Linked DNA regions of Homo sapiens: region 1 is linked to region 2. The links come from fine-mapping of genetic effects on gene expression. Tissue or cell type: subcutaneous fat. Region 2 holds a variant in brackets; the other region holds the start of a gene. All regions are shown on one strand. Distances are from middle to middle.

What was found.
Region 1: MANEA starts here. The variant in region 2 is fine-mapped to the expression of MANEA in subcutaneous fat (GTEx, PIP above 0.99). The same link has a PIP of 0.9 or more in atrial appendage, breast, liver, lung, skeletal muscle and sun-exposed skin.

The regions. Positions count from the first base shown.
Region 1 is chr6:95,572,114-95,581,447 of GRCh38, forward strand. It overlaps MANEA (mannosidase endo-alpha), which reads left to right and starts at 5,422. Exons shown (of 5, transcript NM_024641.4): 1 at 5,422-5,525. MANEA-DT (MANEA divergent transcript) reads right to left here and starts at 5,338. Exons shown (of 3, transcript NR_104136.1): 1 at 4,980-5,338. RefSeq lists silencers at 5,162-5,241, 5,292-5,381, 5,662-5,721 and enhancers at 5,518-6,458, 5,922-6,021.
Region 2 is chr6:95,540,809-95,550,142 of GRCh38, forward strand. No RefSeq gene overlaps it. Among named protein-coding and RNA genes, the nearest start is that of MANEA-DT, 32 kb to the right of the region's middle. RefSeq lists a silencer at 3,872-4,072 and an enhancer at 8,212-8,828. The variant C/T (reference allele first, on the strand shown) is at 4,597.

The DNA of each region.
Region 1 (9,334 bases), 31 kb after region 2:
AAAGATTAGGTTGGTTTGGTTAAAGAATCCATAGCATCCCACGAAGGAAGAAACTCAAACCTAATACCTTAGGAAATTCTCTGTGAAACCTGGAGTTTCAGTGATGCAACATTTGGGGAGTGGCTGATTGTAGTATGACACTAATGCTCAATCATAAAACATAGGACTTCCTTCCTTCAACACACTGAGAGGCCCTATATCAACTGGTGGAGTCATTTCCGAACTCAGGAAGTGCTACATCTCCCTGCTGGCTCTGGTTTCCACTAAAGACATGCATCTCCCTTAGCTGCCACCATGCCTGTTTGCAGAATAGGGTTTCCTTCAGGATAGGGTTTCCTTAAGGAGAAATGTTCCATATATAGTCAATCAATGCATTAGCATTTAACAGCACCATTCAACCAGAGGTGAACTTTCTGCCTTCTTTATTTGGGAAGGCAGAACGCTCTCCCATCTCTGTCACTCAGGAGGGCCATCACCTGGGCAAGTACTTGGATCAGAGAATGAGAAAAACTTTCACCAAAGGGGCTTGGCCTGTTTAGTTAGAAGTTACCTACACTGAGTTTAATTCTGGGTTATGTACATCAATTCTTAGAAGAGCCTTATCTAATGCATCAAGAAGTCACCCTAAAACCTGTGACCACTACGAGGCCAGTGAATTTTAATCATGACCTACCAAGGCAAGTTTTTTCCTTGGTCTGATAATAGTTCGTGAATTTATGTGGGATAGAGTTAGAATGGATTCCTTGCTGTCAGGATGCTGGTAGGTACAGTGAAAGGATCAGAGCATTAGGGGAAACAATGAGTTTGGCTCTCTGAATTATCTACTGCTATAAATTGGTGGAAACTTTAGTGTTTTACTCATGGCACTATTGGAGTTACATTCTTTGCATCCCAAACTGTGTCAAGGAATACCTTAGTTACACCTTCACAGATACCAGATATGATAAAAAGAACAGAACAATTTAGTTAATTAAGAAATTATTGCTGTTTCATATTACTCCCTATAAATGTATAGGGATTAAAAGAATAAAACAGTAAGTATAAAATAGTAAGGGAGAAAGTAGACTTTATATGGACAGTGAAGCATACTGTGATGGATAATTGGACTATTGTTTGGGGATTTAGTTTATTTTATTTTGTTACTACTTAGAATCTAAAAATCCTTCAGGTTTTGGAAGAATAATGTATTCTGTGTTTTGTGCCCAATTTCCCATTAAAGCCAAAAGTTCTGGGCTCTACTTCAAGGAGGCTAAGGAGGAAAAGACATACAGCCTAGAGTAAGCTAATCAAATGATCTCAATCCAAAATTTGAATCTTGAAGCAACGAGGTAGACAACACAGAGTTGAGAAGTCACTCATAGTGGTGTCAGCAGCTTTGAGATCAGTGCAGCCCTGAAAGCAGCAGTGCCCTAATCTGTACTGTTATATGAGGCTGTGTTCCCAATTTCCTAGCCCCTCTTGTTTCCTATCCATTGCCATTACCTAATGTACTAGCCTTCATCTTCATGCTAAATTCTGTAACTTTTTACATAGTCTATTTGTTTTCAGGTTTGCCAGATTCAATTTCTATTGCTTACAAAATATATCTCTGATTAATGTAAGTGGAGAGGATATGGACAGAAATTGATTTCTCATCTTCAGTGACAGGAGTAATGAGCAAAGGTATAAATGGCATATGGCTAGGAAATACTAATGAAACTTCTAGGACAGGGAAAAATAGACATGAAATAATCAGGAGACAAACAATAGGGCCCATTGAAATAGAGGCAAGAAAAAGATGGTTGAAGGTGTAACTGCTTAGGTCTGGGAAATACAAAGAAGACTCTTCAATGCTGATGCCAAAAGATAAGATAAATGGCTGCCGCTTTTCTAGTAGCAAGATAGGATTAACCTGAAGGATCTTGTGGGGTGGGGACTATGATTTTAATAAATGCTAATTAGGATAAACCAAAGGCTACTATTAGTTTATTGTGTTAGAATCTTTCCATACAAGAATTTGACAAAAAAGAAAAAAAAATGGGGGATTTTTTTTTTCTCCATTCTTCCTTCTTTGGATCATTTTTGTCTTTGGACTCTCAGTGACTGATTACCCCTGATGCAACACATTTAAAATGTCTATTTACTACACAAATGAATTTATATGCAGCTCTTTTTCTTTCCAAGAAACCATCTATTAGATAAATGGCATATTCTTCTGGTGCTGTATTTTTAATTAAAAAATACATAAATATGGGCTCACATTAAAAAAGAAAACAGCACTACAGAGAGTAAAAAAGAAAATTCTCCTTCATTCCCCTTCTGTTACATCCCTATAGGTAACAATGCATATATCCTTTCAGATATTTTTATATATCATACATGCACATATATATTTAAAATTTATATTAATATAATGTGAATTTCTCTTGTAAGTATTAACATACTAATCACTTGCTCATTTATCTTGGAGACCTTTCCCATCAGTGCTTATTAATTTACTAAATTCTACATTGTTTACATTCAGGAAATTATTGAACTAATTAAATCTATATGTATATATGAGAGATAAAAAAATTGGATGTGGCAGTTATTATGGCCATCCCATATTTGAAAACAAAATCAAGATTCAGAATGTAATAACATTCTATATGTGATAATTACAACAAAACATTGCTGACTTTCCAGTGATGTCAAGTAAAAAAAAAAAATTCTACATAAAAACACTGTGAAAAAAAGTGATGTGAAAGAAAAAAAGAATATTAACAACATTATTTCTATCATTGCCATCTCAACATTCCCTGACAATAGCAGGGGATAGGTAGAGCAGTCAGAGTTACAAGATGAGGCACTAGCAGCAATTCTAATCCAGTTTATAAACACCATTGTGCAATGAATAGAGTGTGATGCAATGAGAATCTACTTGCCTAATTTATTTACACTGGCAGTCATAAAGTACCCAGTTTTTAAGCAAGTGAGCATGCATTAACATATTTATAAAATAAAATCCTCTCCCTCTCATTTGACATCAGAAAATGTATTAATCATTCCCATAAATATATTAGAATAGGAAACAATGATTATCTCAATAGGTGCAGAAAAAGCATTTAATCAATTAAACTGTCACTCATGGTTAAAAAAAAGCAAACAACAATACATTATGAACTGGAAACAGAACACTTAATAATCTTGATAAAGTATTTACCAAAAACCCACAGCAAACATTGTTATCATTATAAAATGTTAGCAGTATTGCAGTAAAGTGAGGAATGGGACAAGAATGCCATTATTACTTCCATTAAACATTGCACTGGATGCTCTGTTAATAAATAAAAGAAAAAACTGAATAATAAGTGGTTTGAAAAGAGAGAAAGAAGGAAACCATTATTCTTATTTACAAATGATATGATTACCTATATAGGTCATCCAAAGATGTAACAGGGAAATAAAGCAAGCAATCAAAAAAATTCAGCGAAGCTTCTGGAGATAGTACCAATATATTGAAATTGATGCTCTTTTAATACAATGTTACTAAACAATTAGAAAATAGAGTTTAAAGAGAGAGATCTCTAATTTTAGTAATAAAACTAGGAGGCAATATAATGAAAGATACTCAATAAATTACAAAGCATAGTAGCACATAAAGTACCTGAATAAAATAAATATACCATGTTCATAGATAAGAAGACATTTCACTAAATCTCTAAATGCAATTCTCAAGTTGAATAAAATGCCCAATTGAAATCCAATTTTTTAAATGGATCTTGGCTGGCTCATCCTAAAATTTCAATGAAAGAGTAAAGAGCCAAGTATAGTTAAGGCAATTTTAGACAAGAATCATTAGGAGGAGGGGTTTGCAAAATGTTTTAATACATAGAGTTGAGTGCATGGGTGTTCATTATATTATTATTTGTCCTTTCTGTGTTTAAAGTTGCTACAATTAAACTTTTAAACTTGTAGAAGAAAGAATAGTTTCTGATGTTATGTTGGGAAGAATCTTGTAAGCAAGAAAGCAAAAAGCACAAAATTAAAATGTAAAATATTATTAAATTCAAAAAGCTGTATACTGAAGCATAAAGCTTTTGGCAATCAAGAAACATCATAAAAACTGGAAAGACAGTCCATAAACTAAGAGAAGACATTTGCAACACATGTAACTTACAAGAGAGAATTAAACTAGAAAAAATAAATATTATCTACAAAATAATTTTCAAAAGCAAGCAATTTAATAAAAAATGAGATAAAATTAAGAACAGGCTTTAGCAAAAGGGAAAATGCAAATTAAAAGAGCAATCAGATGCTCTTATCAGCAAAAACTTAAAAAGTCTAACAATAGCATAAGGGTAACGATGTGCCAGTCTAGTTTATGGGAAATGGACTTGTATACAGACGAATCTCAAAACCTCTCAAAACCTAAATTAGTGAAAAAAGGGGAAAAATGAAGAATGATTCACATATGAAATATAAAACTAGGAAAATAGTATTTTTAGGGAATCGTACATATGTAACTATTTTCAGAAATACAACGGAATGAGTAATATAAAATTCAGCATAATGGTGAACGGAAGGAAGGAGATGTTTTTAGAGAGTCTTCTTTCTAGAAGACTCCAAAAATACTGGCATTTTTTTTTTCTTAAGCTCTGTAGTGGGTACCTGGGCATTTTTCATTCTTCTTTAAGATATGCACATGAGATATACTCATATGTATATTTCCCAATTAAAATTGGTGTACAAAATCTTTTTAAGGAGAGCCCTTATGAAACTGTTCACATCAGCAAGTTCTAGCTTGAATAAGGACTTCCTGTTACTATGTAACCAAACAAAAGATAGCATTTTCTTGTTTTCTGAAGCTAATGTAAGATGGAAACCTTCAGTTGTAATCCTATTTCAAAAGTTCTTGCTCTTCACATCTGACTTATCCTCAATTATTTCTAGTACTTCAGTACAGATGTGATTTTATAGAATACATTCGCAAATTAAAAACGCCATCTCCATCTGCCTACCTTGGGCTTCCAAGTAAAGTTCTATTTTTACAAAAATCAAAACAGTTCCTCAACTTTAAAAGTTTGAAAACCAGTGTACTTGTAAAGCACTTGATGCAAGCAACTTCTGAATGTTTCACATAAAAACAAACAAAAATGTGTCCTCTGTAATACAGTTAGAGCCTCCCAACAGAGCCTCAGAAGACCGTTTCTAAAGGCAGTGAGTTCTACTTGCAGAAATAGGGCGGGAGTGCAGTCTGACTCCAATCCACACGTCCTTCCCCTCTGACAGAACGCCCCAAAACGCAGTCCTCTCTTTCTTCCGCGCCGCTCCCGCCCTAGTCCTCTTAGACCCGCGACCGGAGGCTCCGGAAGACCCCGAGCCCCGCCCGCTCCGTGACCCCGCCCCCACCCGTCCCGCCCCTGAAAGCGCCCGGAACGCTGTGCGCGCGCCTTCGGGGAGGAGGGGCTGTCTGGGCTCGGGGCGCGGCGGCAGTCAGCTCTATGTTCGCGGTCTTAACCTCTCCTCTGGCCGAGTCCTTGCAAGAAGTGAATTACCCGACCCTGGTGAGTAGCTGCAGGAGTCAGACCTCTTGGAGGCGGCGGCGCCAGCAGCGGCGGCAGGCACGAGGTCCACCGCGGGCGCCTGCGCGCTCGCCCGCCAGCCAATCTGGTGGCCGCTTTCCTCCGGGCGCCCTTTGACCCGGCGCCCCTCTGGCAGGCGCTGGTGGCGCCCAGCGGCGAGCCTGTAGCCCCCTCGATTAACCTAGGCTGTCACTCTTAGGCCTGTTTTAGTCTGCGTTAGTTTTACTGCCTTTTACACTGCTTTATCCCCACCTCACTGGCCTCGTCGCCGCCTCCTCTTTGAAACGGTACCTCCTGTCGCCTCGGATTTTCCTTGTCTCCCCGACAAGGTGGAAATTTCGGGTCGGATGGAAGCCTTTTTCAGCACCTTCTCCTTGTGCCCCCAGACTGCCTCTGGGCCTTGAGCCGACCGGGAGAGTAGAAGGATCGAGGCCTGCTGGGCTCTGGGTGCAACGGAAAGGTAGCTGTCGCCTCTGGGCATCGGGAGGAGACCGCCCGATGGCGAGGCCGCTAGAGATGGTTTTTCAGTTCACCTGTTAACGTGTTTGGCACTGTCATCTTAGACTCTTAGCCTTTGCTAAGTCGGGATGCAACAGTGCTGGATTAGTGTTTTTGTTGTTCCTTTTTCCAAAGAAGCAACTTGAAGTACAGGCAGGTATAACTGTTTGGTTTTGTTGTTGTAAGACCCTACGGATAAGTGTTAGGAGAAAATGTGGAAGTGCTATAAAACAACAACAAGGGGGGGATAATGTTGATTAAGAACTTGAAAATAAGAAAAATGGGACTGGAATAGGCTGTTCACGTTAAAGTATTGAGGCAGTAGTTTGAAACAAAAATATAAAGTAAAACCTAGATATTGGTGATACTGTATCACGTTGTTTGCAAATCACTTTCATGACAATACATCTATTTCAGGTGTATCACACCTGAAAAAAACATGAGTGCTGTGAATTTGTGGATTTTCAGGCTCAATGCAGAAAAACACCCCCCAAAACAAAAAATCACAACAATGAAAACACCATTTCCAGAGCTGTTGCTGTTATTCGTGTGACGAATAGTGAATGTATGATCATAAAATAGAATAAGCTGTCTTTAGATGAAGTTTGGGCACAGTTTATGGAGTAGGTAACAGTTAATCATTGTTTATTAGGTACATAATCCTTAATTGAAAACATAACCATATAGCAGCAGCTTTCATCTTGTGTCACAAAAATAACTGGTGTATCCTCTAAATTTGATTTGTCTAATACCTTAAAGGAAGGCAGAATAGCATGGACAAGAACTTGAGTTCTTGAGCCAGACTCGATCTGCTCCTTGCTAGGTGATTAACCTTAGATTGGTTTCTTGGCCATTTGCTGGCCCAGAGATTTTTGAAAAAGTTACCAACTGCTCAGCTTCATCATTTGTAAAATGAGGTTAAAAAAAATTCTGCGGCCTGGCGCGGTGCCTCACGCCTGTAATCCCAGCACTTTGGGAGGCCGAAGTGGGTGGATCATGAGGTCAAGAGATCGAGACCATCCTGGCCAACCAACATGGTGAAACCCTGTCTCTACTAAAAATACAAAAATTAGCTGGGCGTCGTAGCGTGCGCCTGTAGTCCCAGCTACTCTGGAGGCTGAGGCAGGAGAATCGCTTGAACCCGGGAGGTGGAGGTTGTAGTGAGCCAAGATGGCGCCACTGCACTTCAGCATGGCAACAGAGTGAGACTCCATCTCAAAAACAAAACAAAACAAAACAAAAAACAGAAACTAAACCTCACTGAATTTCTGTTAACCAGAGGGTACAAGTGTTTACAATAAAACTGACCTGGGCAAGGATTGATTTTGAAACTGATTTTGAAAGTTCCAGATGTGTCTTCTAGTATTGAGTTATATTTATCTCCGGTGGCTTCATACAAAATAAAATTAGAAGAAAACAATATATTTTTTAAAAAAAGCACCAGAAGTCTGTGTGATTTAATTTAGTTAATTGAAAGGGAAGTCTTTTTGGCTTTTGTGAGTTACATGATAAAAGCAAATAATTTTTGAAGTACTAATTCATACCACCCTGCTTCTGAATCTCTTGGGGTCTCTTAGCTAGCTGGATATGTCCAATAATTTTTTATTAGACATCACTAAGCTTCAAGTCAGCATTTCAAAGGATTAAAAGCACAAAACTCAAAAAATAGAAGCTACAGGTTCAAAAGAACCTATTGTGTATGAGTAATGTAAACAGTCTTTTGAGGAGAAAACAGATTTTCAGTAGCCAATACTTTGAGTAGGTCCCTGCCTTGGAAAGATATATCTGCAATAAACTTGTAATATTTTCTCTATGGTGACTTATAATACTTTTCTTTTATTGAAGCTAAATTAGTTCCTCCACCCCTTTCCTGCAAGATCAGACATTTTAGGCATCTCAAGGGTCATTGTGGTTTTACAGCGTTGAAGATGATTTTTTTTATTAAATTGGATTTTTAAAATTATTGGATCTTTACGATTCTTTATAATATGTTCAGTATACACCGTAAACTTATCAAGTGTGTATACGGTCAGTAGTCTATATATACACACACACACAGATATACATATATATATATACACACACACTGCCTGAATACCAATGAAACAGCAAAGAGCCAGAAATTAACTTTTTTAAAGCTGAACACTTAATGAACACTATGTGAAAGATATGTTATGCTCTACTAGAATGTGAAGATAAAGACTCCATTTCTGAAACTTAAGGAGCAATCTAGTAGGTGATATAAAGATAAATGCACAGCATGATATAATACATAAGGAATGACAATTTGGCCGGGCACGGTGGCTCACACCTGTAATCCCAGCACTTTGGGAGGCAGAGGCGGGTGGATCACGAGGTCAGGAGATCGAGACCATCCTGGCTAACACGGTGAAACCCCATCTCTACTAAAAATACAAAAAATTAGCCAGGCGTGGTGGCAGGCACCTGTAGTCCCAGCTACTCGGGAGGCTGAAGCAGGAGAATGGCATGAACCCTGGAGGCGGAGCTTGCAGTGAGCGGAGATAGTGCCACTGCACTCCAGCCTGGGCAACAGAGTGAGACGCCGTCTCAAAAAAAAAAAAAAAAAAGAAATGACAATTTAAAAAGTAAATACTGTTAACAATAAAATATATGAGGAATAAGTACTTTTCACTGTGGAATTAGGAGAGGTATCAAGAAGAGGCAGCATTTCAACTTTGACTTGAAGGTGACTGGTATTTCAATAGTTGGTCATATAGAGAATAGGCATTTAGAATAAAATGTGTTATATTTTAATTGCTTGTCGGACACCCATCTTTAATCATCATCATAAACAATTGCTCATTTATTTAGTCTTATACTAAGCCACATGATTTTGAGAGTTTTACAATATTAACTAATTTCATCCTCACAAAAATCCTATGAGTGAAGTAATAACTCATTCTATGGGTGAGGAAAGGAACTCAGAAAGATCAGGTCAGTTTTGTAGGTCAGATAACTAAAAAATGGCACAGCTGGAATTTGAGCTCAAGCATTTGAACTACAGAGCTCATATTTTAAATCTCAATGCCCATCTGTGTTTATTTAGGTTGAGATGACTTAATTGAGACATGGAGGTTGAGCCAGAGCCAGCAGATCATCTCTTAAAATTGAGCTTGTGTGTCATCTATAATGATGTGATAAACACACATTTTAATTGAATGAATGAAGTAATGTAAAATGAGAAGACAGAGGATCAGCTTAAGAAATTACATTCATAGGCAAGAGAGAGAGAAAAAAAAACAGCTTCCATAAATGGACATTTTGTGCTTTGT
Region 2 (9,334 bases):
AAGTTTTTAGGGACACTTAGACGTGTGTTTAGTTTCTCTAAGGACAATTAGTTTCTATGGGGTTATCATCAAGTGGGGATCTCAAATCAGTTTCTCAAAATATCTTTTGATCCTGAGGGGTCATGATCATTATACATTTTATTTCCTTTAATTTCCATATATGAGGCCATAAAATACTTTATTATACCAAATAGCAGTAGATGAGAGATTAAAGTAATGCTTAGCACACAAACTACTTGTTAACATTACAGCAGATAGCAGCAGATATTAAAGTAATACATAGCACACCAAACACTTATTTTTATTACAGTATAATTTCCTCATCCTTCCCAACAGAACTATCTCTTGCCCATATGCCATACATTTTCAATGACAGGAATAGTCACTAGAATATTCAGTAAATCCAGAATTCTTTCTGTCCTGGGGGCCTAATCATACCTCTGCTATGAAGAAGCAGGATTTTATTGACACTGGTTCCCACATATAAAAGTAGAGCACAACCAATTCACCCTATAGAGAGGACACAGTGTTGGTCTTTTGATGGCCACTAACTGCATCACAGGAAATGCTGGCTCTTTTTAAATTCATGGTGTATATATTGTAAGGGAACGATAACAGGATCACTTGTTCCAGTGACATCCTGCTATAGTTCAGGTGGTCCTTACCATTTTAATATTGCATCTGTCCGGCTTGGACTTCTAAAGCACTCAGGCATTTTCCTTTAAACACAATAGAAATAAAGTGTAGCAGAGAGCACTTCCTGGATGAGCATACAGGCCCTCTCCCATAGGTTTTGTACAGGATAATGTCCCAAATGACTTTTCTTCCCTCCAGATAAAAATAAAGCCTCACCAAATCCTTTTCCCACTCTTATAAATAGATGATAGGTTTGCAAAGGTAAAAGATAACAGGTCCTCCTCTACCACTAGGCAATAAAGCAGCACTTAGGGTCAGTCCTACCTTGGTCACACTGGGCAAAATAACTGTCTACATGTCCTTAGGAAAACATATACCCAAGTGCAAAGGAATAAAGTATCTTAAGTAGTATGCTCCCTTTCGTTGGAAGAAGGGCAAATGCAATGTTTGTCTAATGCACTTGATCTGATAACAGAAAAGGAAAGGTTTGTAAGGTATGAAAGACGAAGATTTATGTCACAGTATCATTTCCCAACCCTTTATTCCTGGTACACAAAAAGCTTTCTTAAGGCTGTTCCGCCCTCAATGTCTCCCATGTTTAGGTGAAGCACATACCCCCTTATAAGCTTCCCAGCCAGCCCTTCTTATCCTTCACTTCCTTAGCATCCTCTGTCTTTCAAAATGAATGTTTTAGTTGACTATTCCAATTTTTAATTAAGCCACTCCTATGTGGCTGGTAGGAGTATATGTCCATTACATATGGTTCTTTTTGTCTCATTTTGGAAACTTGGCCATGGTGAAATTCATTCCCTATGAAATATAGTGGGGGGACTCAAAACACTCATCTATCCCCAGAAAGACTCATTGGAATACTCCAGGAGTAATGAACTGGGTTCAGTATAATCCATCTGCCAGTGATGTGCTTGCCATTGACCTCAGGGAATTCTCTCCAGTGCCATTTTTGGACTTTTTTTTCTTCTTGATCGCATTCAGGACAGCCTGTCACAATAGTAATGGCTTTTCTGGGTAGCACTGGTCTATGCCATTGCTTCCAATTGTCGTGGCATGGCTTGAGCACCACTGTGACAGCTCATCTCATACACTCAACTGATTTTCTCCTTTGGGAGACCAGGGCATCTACTTTGGCTTTCTAGCGCTCCTCTGAGACACTACTGGCTGTTCTTTGTAGGCATCTAGAAATGTGCTTCTCCCCAGGAGTTTCCATAAAGACTTCCACAATTGCATCTCTTCACATGAAGATAATCTTGTGTATCTATGTATCAAGGAAGCATTTGCCTGTCTGACACTGCAACACAGTCCTAGGGAAAGCCCAGGAGGCTTTAATATTTAGACACAAGCCTGAGGCCAAGAACCAAGTTCTTCCTGAACCATTAACATATAACATATACTGACCTCTATTCAGGCCACTGTGTATGCTTATCATTGTGTCTTCAGCTCAGATTTTTACAGTACATTGGAGGTTAGCTGTAGCCTTCCATATAGAGTCCCATCATTCAGTGCAAGGACTCTCATTAGCAAATAAGTCAGATATTTTGTCTCAGCAGGGTTCAGAACCTTTGGCAATAAGAGTGGGTAGCTCCTCCAGAGTGCCACTGTAGAGGCAGAGATGTTACCTGCTCATGGATAGAGTGCATTTCCTCAGAGTCTATCTTTTTTAGCATGTTCCCAAATATATTTTATCAGTCCGTTCTCACACTGCTAATAAAGACACACCCAAGACTGGATAATTTATAAAGAAAAGAGGTTTAATTTTTCAGCATGGCTGACAAGGCATCAGGAAACTTAAAATCATGGTGGCAGGAAGGAGAAGAATGAGAGCCAAGTGAAGAGGGAAGTCCCTTATAAAACCACCAGATCTATAAGAACTTACTATCATGAGAATAGCATAGGGAAACTGCTATCATGATTCAGTTATCTCCCACTGGGTCCCTCCCACGACATGTAGAAATTATGAGAAAGTATGTGGAAGTTATGGGAGCCACAATTCAAGATGGGATTTGTGTGGGGATACAGCCAAACTGTATCATATATCATTCATATTTTACCAGGGAACTTGTTGTACAACTCCCTTTCTATTGGAATCTCTTTTTATATCACCCATGAGACTGTAGATAACTCAAGCCTCAAGTCACCATAGGTAATGCAATGTAATCTGATGCTCTTTGGGTATGAGGGCTGTTTCTTACTAGAGCCAAAAAGCATGCTAATGCCTGTATCTCAAATAGGCTGTTCTCAGACACAATATCATGAATTTTTTTTAGTCCAGAACTCCTGCAACCACCTATAAGTAGCATTCTAAGGCTTTGGCTAGGGACTCCAGTCTATGTGTATTTTAGTAGTGGACTTCTCTAAAACTGCTGGTTGTATCAGGATTATAAAATCCCAAAAAGACAGCTTGGCCTACCCTCTGCTCTGGATATCATTCAAATCCATTGCTTTTTCTAGTCACTTTGTATATCGGGGCCAACAGGATTTCCAAATATGGCATATGTGTCCTAGAATCCAAACAACTCTTTGAGAGTTTGTGCCTCTCTTGCTAGTAAAAATGGGTCAGGACAATTTGTTCTTTACTGTGTGTGAAGTGCCTCTAGTGGCCAGAGTATTCCTAGAGAAAAGACTGACCAATCTGGGTCCTGAATCTTAATCAGATTTTTTAGACATCCTTATCTAGTCCTATTGCAGCTATTGTTTGTAAATCCTCCTTGCCTCCATTCTCAGCTTACTTTCTGAGAGGGGAGGTATCATCGTATCATCAGCTTCATGAATCAATGGGCTTTCAGAAATGAAGAGACTCAAATCTTGTCTTATAGGGCAGTAGCTAAATCCTGGAGAATGTGCATAACCTTAGAGGAAGATAGTAAAGTATATGTAATGAAATATCTCTCATGCAGATAAAAATGATGCTTGGCATTTTTTCCAGATTCTATTATCAAAGCACATTCCCTGCCGAACCTCCTGGTAGTTTTTAATCATGTCTGGCATAACAGAGACTTTGGGGAAAATTGTTTCACTTAATTCTGCATTTTCTCACAGGACAGACAGGACTAACGTGAAGAGAATTGATGGGGATGAGCACAACTGTTTCCACGACCTCTTTAATCATGACTGAGATTTCCTGCTACTTTCCTGGAAAATGATGCAGTTTAGTATTTACTACAGAAAAGGGCAATTGTAAAGCCTCCCACTTAACAGATCTGATAAAAACCTGGCAAAGGGCAAATCCCTAGCATTCAGCTATAGACCACTAAGAAGGGCAAGACCTTCTGCTTTTGCTTCATAACCTTTCCAGTTATTCATTCAAGCAGAGAATAGCAGCACTATTCTTATCTATTTCCACTATTTCCTTATCATGTTCCTCTCTGGTGCTCTACTAGGGCCTTGGAGTCTTCCCTCACAGTATCTCCTTCCCACCCCAGCCCTTAGCTTCCTCTTTGGCTTCTTAACATTGTGTTTTTGCTCCCTACATGTATTATAGTACTTTATGTACCGATATTCAATTGTCTCAAAATGTTTTGTTCACCAACCCTAGGATATTCGACTTTAACCAAAGCACATGGTCTTTGAACTGATCTGTGGGATAGGACAAAATATCCTAGCCTTCAAGTTAATCTTTATTGGTTTCTACTGTTTCTACCAATGGTGTTTATTTAGCACACTTTTTATTCAGCACTTTTCTTAGCACAAAGTTTATTCACAACTTTTGTTCTTACAGCATCATTGGATTTTTTAGTAGTGGACTTCTCTAAAACTACTGGTAATGTCAGGTTTATAAAACATAATACCAAAGGGACAGCTTGACTTGCCTTCTTCTCTGGATCTCATTCAAATCCATTTCTTTTTCTAGTCTCTTTGTATACTGGGGCCAACGTATGTGTCCTCCAGAATCCAAACAGCCCTTTGAGCCTTTGTGCCTCTTTTACTAGTAAAAACGAGTCAGGA[C/T]AATTTGTTCTTTACTGTTTGTGAAATGCTTCTAGTGGCCCTAGGCCAGATTATTCCCAGAGAAAGGACTGACTAATCTGGGTTAAACTCACACAGATTGGCTTAAAGGGATCATATCTCATGGGATTCATTAAGGAAGGCAGCTGGCAGATACGGAGCAAATGTTCCTTTTCCCAACTGGTGATAATGAGCCAGTAAATCTTTTCAGATAATTCAATAAATTTCTTATCTTTTCATCTTGTGTCTTAACAATAAATTTCTTATCTTTTCATCCTGTGTCTTAACAGCCACCTAATGACAGCTGTATCTGATTCACCCTTTTCTTATATCTTTAACTGCCCCCTCCCCTTGCCTTTCTTTGACTATCCATTTTAACGGTTTCCTAGGAGATAAATCTAGGTAACTCAGCCATCCAGGCATGAAATGTTCATCAAAATCTGCTCCCCAACCCTATCCTGTCCTATTTCCTGCATCACAATGATTTGACTCAAGGGCCTGAAAGCCAAGGCTACTTCTGACACCATTGTCTAGCACAGCATTTGTCTTCGGCTAGCAAGCTGAGTCAGGAGACACAGGCAAGCTTTAATATAATACTGTTTACTTAGCATTATAGAAGGAAATAGGCAATACATGAAACAGGTGTACCATCTTCATCTCATCATCACCTCATCTCAGCAGCTACCCAAGTACAAAAAAGTAGTAAAAAAAAAAAAAAAGATTTCCTTTACATCCTCACACACATATGTATGCATGGCTGCCACAAATGATTGCCAAGATGTGTGTGCAACCTTGAAACATGGAAGCTACAGCCTCTATTTCCCACCAACTTTTTATACCATAGTTATCCCACAGGCTCAAAGCCCATGTGCATGAAAACTCACAGCCCCTCTAACCTGAGGCAGATGTTGTGTTCCGCAAAACAAATGAGCCAGTCAAAACATTCCTCATTTGTCTTAAAACTACTGTTTCCATGGAAACAGTCCTATGAGAATCTAAGATCTTTCTGAAGCAGTCTTGATATGCAGGCTTAATAGTAACTCTTCATTCACAAAAGCTTTATACATACATATGTATGTATGTATGTATCTATATATGTGGTTAAAGGTGATGTGTTAATCACCTTTTTAAAATATCTGTATTTATATATTGTTTTCATTTACCACTATCCTTTTGTCTAACCATTTCTAATTTATGAAACACAACACAAACAGAAAGGTGCACAAAATATTAAATACAGTAAAATATAGTATGTATATATAAATCATCATGCATCCATCCCCCAGATTGAGAAACTGAACACTGTCATCACCTCCAAAGCCTCCAGGCTGTTACTTCCCAAACTAAGACTCCTCAATATTCCTTAGTCTTGTGCCTGTCTTTAACTTTTATAATAATCACAACTACATATTGTTTCAGTTTTATCACTAAGTACACATTGCTAAACAATACAGTTGGGTCTTTCCTATTTCAAATTTTTTATAAATACTACCTACTGATTTGTGTGTTTTTGATTTTTTTTTTTGCTCAACATTCTCTAAGATTGTGCAGTGGCCATTTGCTTTTCATTACTATGCAGTATTCTATTATATAAAAATGTCACAATTTATTTAATTCAGTCTCTTATTAATGGTTATTTGTTTTATTTCAAGTTAGGGTAACACAAAGAGTGCTCCTTATAATATTCTTTGCATTTCTTTAATGCAAGCATTATCACTTTTGTTTTGTTTTGTTTTTGTTTGTTTGTTTTAAACAAATAGAGTAATGGATAAAGAGAGAAAATGTCATTTACTTAATATCATGATGCTGGTAGAATTGGACTTTAAACCTAATTCTGAAGTCTCTGTGACTCCAGAGTCCATGTTCTCAATTTCTTCAATAGTTCTTGTAATAAGAAGCACGTTTTAATGAAAATAGTGACAATTGAGATGAAGACAATTGACAAATTCAACCAGTTCTAAGAATACAGATTCAATATGATTTTGTGATTGAGGCAGTTGCTGAAGGAGATGGAAAAATCAATAGTAACATTGATTAAGCACCTGGCTTGAGTAAGTGATTGGTGGTGTCATTTAGTGAAATACTAAATACAGAAAAATGACCAGGGTTGGCAGATCAGGAATTTAGATGGACTTGAACACACTGCATTTCGTACCTGCAAGACACCACTTGACTAATAGTAATAGCTAGCATTATTGAAAACTAGCAATATGCCAGGAATTGTTCTGAAGTATTTACATGCATTAATTTGATTCTCACAACAAACCTATGAGGCAGATCCTATTATTGTGTCCATTTTATAGATGAGGAAAGAAAACTGAGGGAAACAAAAGCTTAGTAGAACCTCAATGTTACAAAGCTAGTAAATGAGATGTTTACTTAAGCAGCCACTTCTAAAATTCATATTCTTAAGCATAAAATATGTAAAGTCTTTTGATAAAATGTCATGGGCAATAGGGAGTGAGCTATACAGAGGCTGAAGCTTAGGTAAGAGATCTGGGCTGGAATATAAATCTGAAAGTATTTACATGTCATTGAATATATGTAATTATTAATGTAATATATGTAATCAATTACATCATTAATTATGAGCCATAGGTGATTTTGCCCCCTAGGAGACATTTGGCAGTGTTTGAAGACATTTTGTTTGTCATAACTGGGGTGGGTGCTAATAGTATCTAGTCTGGGGGGTGGGGCAGGGAATTTGCTAAACATCCTACAATGCACATGATTGGCCCTCACCACAAGAAATTATCCTGTTCAAAATGTTAAATTGAGAAACCCTGTCCTACACAGATTAATCATTGGATGGAGGCCCACCTAGGAAGGAAGAGTGATGCGGACTAGGAAACTCTTCAGCTGAGACTTGTCTACTGACAGCACTTACAGCAGCTCTGGTAATAAGTTCTTTATTCCTAACTAGGAATGTATCAGTGTGTCACAGCATCTGTCATGATTATGGAAGGGAGATAAAGAAACACAGCCAGATGGGTCCCTGACGCAGGGGGAACCCTGCTTTCAACCACCTGCTGGGTTCAACAGTGTATGAAGTCATGCCTTTCCATTTCCTGCAATTCTGATGCTTTGACATCTCAGGGTTTTGCTGATCCTGGAAAGCCTACCCCTTCCAGGACTAGCCATCTCCTGGCTCCTATGTAGCCATATCCTACATAGTAAATGACTGGCCCAGGACTGTGAGATTCATATGCAAACCAACAATGCAGAGCTTTCACACCCCACAACCTCCTCTAGGAGGCTGTCACACTCAGGGCCACTATGCGCTGCCCTAATCACTCCAGAGTCAAATACTAGACAACTAGGGACAGTTCCTATACCCCAGAGTCTGCTGGGATTATTTAAACAAGCCAATTCTAAACCTGTTTACCTTGCTGCAGAAACCAAAATAAAGGCTCTTGCTCACGCTCTCCATCACCCCTCAAATCCTTCTGCCTCCTGACTGAATCTGGTGCTTCCCAGCATGGCCTTGTGTGGCATGGCATACCCCTTCCTCTTGGGAACAAACTGTCTATACAATGGCCAGTGTCTCCTGATTTTTGGCGTCACAATACCTGAATAATAATGAAACCTACATTTTAAACTGACTAGGTTGTTTGAATGATTAATTTATTTCTGTTGGGGTTTTATTTGTACGTATGTCTTTTATTTCTTCTTTTTGTATTGAAAGCATTTAAAAACTCTCTGCACGAGATTTGGTGGTCGAGTGGGTGCTATATTTACTATATTAATGCAAATTTTCATTTTTTAAAAATCTGTTTAATCTCCATGATAAAAAGTATATCCACACATGGTATTTGTTATAAACATTATAGATGCACTGTCATTGTCTTATTCACTATCTACCTATTGCTAATACATTCCACCTCTCTGATTTTGAGTCAGATAGTTTATGCGCATAAAGCTTCTACCAAATATTTAATGAAGTATTGTCATTTGTATTGCTTTGTAAAGAATCTGTAATCCCCTTTGATCTGTGTTAATGAGTCATGCATTGTTTATTTCCAAATAATTACTTTTTAACTTTAGCTATTAATGGCTATTTTGTATTGTGATCTAATAACATGGCGTGTACAACTTCAGCTTTTCTTTTTGTAACTGATTTAACATTTTTCTGGCCTATTAGATGACCAGTTTTTACAAAAGATCCATTGGCTTTTAAAATAAAGTGTATATTCTGTTTATTTGGAATATACTTGATCTCTTTATTTTAAAAATCTATAAATTAGAATAGTATATAGCCTTTACTTTTTTACTTTTTTCTTACATGAGTATTCAAAACCTGGGAGATGTTTCTTCAAAGCTAAATTTTTTTCTTTTCTAACTTCATTTTGTAAAATTGTATAGCACAGCTTTTACTTTAAGTATTTTGTAGCTATGTTATTTTTCATATAAAGGTTTATGATTCTAATATCTTCATTGTGGATATATCATTTTTAAACATAAAACTGAAGTCTTTTATAATTTATGATGACTTCTTTGCCTCAAAATCTGATACAGCTGATTTTAATGTTATGATCTTTCTTTTGTTTGCCTTTAGATGATGTATCTATGCCAGTCTCTTTTTCTATTTTTCTTTTCTTCCTTTTTTTTACCTCTCTAGGTCATATTCCCTTAGGTACGTCCCTTGGAAACCACATATAATTGGACTGATCTTTAATAGAACAGTTTAACCCATTCAAATTCAAAACTTTTAAGTTGTTATATCTGAAAACTTTGTTCATTT